2 separate regions of the Homo sapiens genome follow, and region 2 is linked to region 1. The links come from fine-mapping of genetic effects on gene expression. Tissue or cell type: fibroblasts. Region 1 holds a variant in brackets; the other region holds the start of a gene. All regions are shown on one strand. Distances are between the middles of the regions.

What was found. PIP is the estimated chance that this variant, and not a neighbour inherited with it, causes the effect.
Region 2: LACTB starts here. The variant in region 1 is fine-mapped to the expression of LACTB in fibroblasts (GTEx, PIP 0.99). The same link has a PIP of 0.9 or more in subcutaneous fat.

The regions. Positions count from the first base shown.
Region 1 is chr15:63,168,372-63,171,131 of GRCh38, forward strand. No RefSeq gene overlaps it. Among named protein-coding and RNA genes, the nearest start is that of RPS27L, 12 kb to the left of the region's middle. The variant T/C (reference allele first, on the strand shown) is at 1,101.
Region 2 is chr15:63,120,647-63,123,274 of GRCh38, forward strand. It overlaps LACTB (lactamase beta), which reads left to right and starts at 1,215. Exons shown (of 6, transcript NM_032857.5): 1 at 1,215-1,582; 2 at 1,990-2,056. The coding sequence starts at 1,226. LOC107984798 (a long non-coding RNA gene) reads right to left here and starts at 1,121. Exons shown (of 2, transcript XR_001751584.1): 1 at 94-1,121. RefSeq lists silencers at 1,104-1,683, 1,704-1,773, 1,784-1,973.

The DNA of each region.
Region 1 (2,760 bases):
CATCACCCTTATCACATTTCTCTAGTCATGCTCCAATTTGCCCATTTCTCTCTTAAAATAGGCCCAATGACTGAACACACTGCCAGCTGAGAATAACAGGGAATTATTACTTGTCCTGTTCGGATTATCGTAAGTGTATCAATACATCCCAATATCACAAAGGTTTTTTTGTCAATGCAGTGGTATCACACTGTTGATTTACATAAACTTATAGCTGACTAAAATCCTGTCTTTTAAAACTATTAAACCTCACATTCCTTATGCTATAATTGCATTTTAAGAAATCTAAATACAGTGAATATACTAAAAATGTTTTTTAATTTTTTTATTTTTTATTCGTTTATTTATTTATTTATTTTTGAGACGGAGTCTCGCTGTTTCACCAGGCTGGAGTGCAGTGATGCGATCTCGGCTCATTGCAACCTCCGCCTCCTGGGTTCCAGCGATTCTCCTGCCTCAGCCTCCCGAGTACCTGGGACTACAGGTGCATGCCACCACACCCAGCTAATTTTTGTATTTTTAGTAGAGAGGGGATTTCACTATGTTGGCCGAGATGGTCTCGATCTCTTGACCTTGTGATCCAACTGCCTCTGCCTCCCAAAGTGCTGGGATTACAGGCGTGAGCCACCGTGCCCCACCCTAAAAACTAATGAATTGTATATTTTAATTGGCGAACTGTATGGTATGTAAATTATATCTCAATAAACCTGTTAAAAAAATCTAAGTACAGGAAAGAAAGACAGTTTTATTTTATCAAATACCTGCTACATTTTGCCAGGCACATTAGCTCATATGATCTTTTCAACAATCCCTTTGGGTTCTAGAAAAATTAAGTAACTTGTCCTGCTGGGTGTGGTGGCTCACGCCTGTAATCCCAGCACTTTGGGAGGCTGAGGCAGGTGGATCACGAGGTCAGGAGTTCAAGACCAGCCTGACCAACATGGCAAAACCCCGTCTCTACTAAAAATACAAAAATTAGCCAGGCATGGTGGCACGCATAGAAGGCTGAGGCATGAGAATTGCTTGAACCCAGGAGGCCGAGGTTGCAGTGAGCCAAGATCATGCCACTACACTCCAGCCTGGGTGACAAAGCGAGACTC[T/C]GTCTCAAAAAAAAAAAAAAAGCAGGACAAGTCACAGAGTAAACTAACTGTGTCTCCTGAACTACTGAGACAGGGCTTCTTAAAGCCTTCCATCTAGACAGAGGATTTGCATGTGAACCCGGGGCAGGGCCAAAGCTACAGATGAGTATCAAATGCCCCAGCAATGGGACTGACCGATTGTCAGGGGAATTGGCAAGACCAGTGCCAATCCTGTTTTGTTCTGGGTATGCCATCTATAATGCCATCCATCCACTTCCCTATGACACAAGAAGGTATATCAGGAAGTGACTAGGAGAAAACATTATTTTAGGGATAAGTGTGAATCTGTTGCATTTAATATTGTGATCAGTAAAAATTATCTGTGCATGTCTGATTTAGACAGGCCAGTTGAGTGTGATGGGACTAGCAGGGTAGGTGTGAACAGGCAGACACTTTCTGTGCAACCAGAATCTCTGGCTAAGCCTCTCTCCCTGCCAGCCCACGGACTTAGCCAAGTCTCCTTGGGTTTCCAGTAACAGAGGCATCTCACACTTGCCTGAGCTAAAATGGAGAGTGTGCTGGGCACCCGCCAGGGCAGGAAGGGCAGCTGGGCCACATGGGGTGGGAACAAAGCCCTGAGAGGCCACTGTGAATGGAGACAGCCATGCTCTTGCCACCTCCCTTTTTCTCTTGGGGTGACCTGGTTTCTCATCTCTTTCTCCCTGACACTGTGTCAGTCTCCTTTCTCCACAGCCCAGTTTTCCTTCTATGGTACACAGTGAAAATGGCCAGGCCAGCCCCCCAGTATAAGCTGTCCTAGTTCCAGGGCCAACTGTGACTGACCAGAGGCCTGTGTCCTAATTCCAGGTGCCCTGGAGAGAGAATCTGGTTGTCTCAGCTTGGGTCAGGAGTGTCTACCCTGGTCATCTGTGGTAGAGCCTCAGGGCCACTTGAGGAGACAGTGACTGCTGGGGCCACCCCTGTGGAAGAAGGCTAGGGGCAACTTTGAGGAAAGGAGGCACAGACTGAACAGAAGACCCTAAAGGTGCCCACTCCCTCCAGGCGTCTTTGCTGCCTTTGGCACCACAGCTGGTGGCTCTGCGCTACCCCCTCCAGGCTGCCTGCCTTCTCCCTCAAACCCCTAGCATTAATGGGACATTGTTTGTTAACTGAAAACATTTTCTCCACAAACTTCGGCAAACTGGTGGTGAATGTCTACAACAAAAACATTTTTTCCTGTGGAACAATCAAATCCGAGGACCACATGTTGAGGGGAGAAACCATTTAAACTAAAGACATACCAAGTACATTGGAACTGAGTCAGTTTACAAGGATCTACATGTGTCTAACAGTATATTTTACAACCAACAAAATTACTATGCATAATATACAAGTAATTTATTTGCAAAATGCCTTTCTAAACAGCCCTCACATTATGTCTAAATGAGAACTATCTTATTCACACTTCTTCAAGTGGCCAAAGAAGAAAATCTGAAATAAGGGGTGAGAAGCAGAAAATCTAGAGGTTCTGACCTAAGTGGGTCCTGCTTCTGACTTATAAGGTGCCATTAAGGGAACTATGGGGCACGTTGTTAAATCCAAAGGCTATACTGTGAGCCTTGGAGAGCAACTAAGACTCCTTCCCCCATAATCTCTGATAGTGGTGGTGGTGGTGATGATG
Region 2 (2,628 bases), 48 kb before region 1:
GATACCATTATTGCCTTTTCCTCCTATTAAATAATTATTACCTCAATATATTTATTTTGAGGTATGTATATGTTTACTCAGTAAGTTTATTACCTCAATATGTTTGTCCTGATGGCTTGTCAGTTCAAGTCTGTGAGCTCTCTTCTTTATTCCACCTGCAAGAAAAGACAGGGCCATTTTGTATATGGGGCATATTGCCCCAGTGCTGAAGGTATAAAGCCTACAAGCTTTCAAAGATTGTGTGTGTGTGTGTGTGTGTGTGTGTGTGTATGTATGTATCCCAAAATATAAAAATTACAAAACTGATAAATGTTTAAGTAACTTCAAATTAACATATCAATTTCATTACACGTTAAACTAGGATTTTATACACATTTTACATTTTGTAGCAATTTGAGATTAGGTTTCTTATTTCACAAGAATGTCTGATCATTTACAGATGCTGAGAAATCATAGGTAATTGTAAATTATAATAGTTACTTTTGGATTAAAATTTTTCAAGCACGAAATTTTTAAAAAACACTTTATCTTTTATAGCAAAAGAAAGGTAATATAAGGTCTGGATGTAACTTCATGTCTTTGGTACGGTGTGGAGCTAGAATTCCAGAAGCAATAGATTTTAAAACATCTTTAGGGAAATGGGTGAATTGAAATGAGACATAAGGGAGATGGCAAGAGAGTGAAAAGAAGCGCGTTCTAAAGGGGGAAAGGAGAAAGGGAAAGGAAAGGAGAAAGGCATCTCTAAAGGGAAAGGAGATGCCTGCTGAGCGTCTACTGTGTGCCCTGCGCTGTTCCAGAAGTTGAGGATCCAAAACTAAGTCTAGGCTCCCCAAAGAAGTCCCACTCTGGTAAGGAATCTGACAAGTAGTTAAATGATACAAAGTGTTAACTGTTGTTAAAGAAGTGTGCACACTGAGGGGCAAGATGGTAAGGGCGAGAACTCCCATGGGACGGGAACTAGGAAGGCTTCTGGGAGGTGACGCTTGATCTGAGGGTAAGCAAAGGAAAAAAAGGAAAGAGAGACAGAAAGGAAAAACAAGGAAGAGACAAGAAAAGGGAGAGGAAGAAGGGCTCGATGCGATCGGCGCTCGGGTAGTCAGGCGTCGACTGCTAGGGTCTGACCGCGGTCCCCACCCCCGTCCCGCCCCCTGCCCTTCCCTCCGCCCCGCGCCGCGGCTGGCAGGGTGTGCGTGAGTTTGGTGGCGGCCGGCTGTGCAGAGACGCCATGTACCGGCTCATGTCAGCAGTGACTGCCCGGGCTGCCGCCCCCGGGGGCTTGGCCTCAAGCTGCGGACGACGCGGGGTCCATCAGCGCGCCGGGCTGCCGCCTCTCGGCCACGGCTGGGTCGGGGGCCTCGGGCTGGGGCTGGGGCTGGCGCTCGGGGTGAAGCTGGCAGGTGGGCTGAGGGGCGCGGCCCCGGCGCAGTCCCCCGCGGCCCCCGACCCTGAGGCGTCGCCTCTGGCCGAGCCGCCACAGGAGCAGTCCCTCGCCCCGTGGTCTCCGCAGACCCCGGCGCCGCCCTGCTCCAGGTGCTTCGCCAGAGCCATCGAGAGCAGCCGCGACCTGCTGCACAGGATCAAGGTGCGGCCACTGGAGCGGGGGGCGTAGGGGGCCGGGGATCCACCCCTGTCGGCGGTGCTGTCGGGGGCTGAGTGGACCCCACCCGGGGCGGCGGGGTGCCCGCGATCGGCTTCCGAGAAAGACTTCCCATTTCCCCACCGCCGAGCCGTGGTCAGACGCTCTTGGGGGTTCCCCAAATCTGGGTGGAGGTCACCGCCTGTCTCGGGGACCGCCCCTTCCCCCTAGGGGGCGGACAGGCACATCCCTTGCTGTTAGTGAGTGACCATGGCCTGGGACGAGGTGGGCGGGGCCCAGGTGGAGGGGGCGGGGCCCAGGCTCAGGGGGCGGGGCCTTGGAAGGTCCCCGAGGAGAGCGCTGGGCTTTTTCAGCAGGCCCGTAACTGTCGGTTCTTTCCCCTTCGGTCTTAGGATGAGGTGGGCGCACCGGGCATAGTGGTTGGAGTTTCTGTAGATGGAAAAGAAGTCTGGTCAGAAGGTGGGTTCAGAAAATTGTTGTTTTGTTCTGTGCCAGTTGGTAAATAAAATATTGTTTTACTGGTTAGAGTGGATCCCATGAAATGCTATTGCATTTACATAAAACGATGCATATTGTAGAGAAAACATCTAACATAATAAAGAGTCAGGTGTTTTTAAATCACGGTAAGGTTTAAAATGTGACTAATAAATTGGAGTCATGAGGATGGCTACCCACTCCCACTTTTCTCTTAGGACTGGATTTATTAGTCTGAAAGTTTTATACAGTAGTCCCTCCTTATCCTGGGGATATATTCCAAGACCCTCAGTGGATGCCTGAAAAAGTGGATGATATTGAACCCTGTATATACTATATTTTATCTTATATATACATATCTATGATAAAGTTTATAAATCAGGCATAGTAAGAGATTAGCAACAATAATAAAATAGAACAATCACAACAATACTCTGAGTGGCATGCAATTTAAAGCTTACGAATTGTTTATTTCTGGAATTTTCCATTTAATACTTTCGGACCATGGATAACTGAAACTGAGGAAAGCGAAACCACAGATAAGGGGTAACTACTGT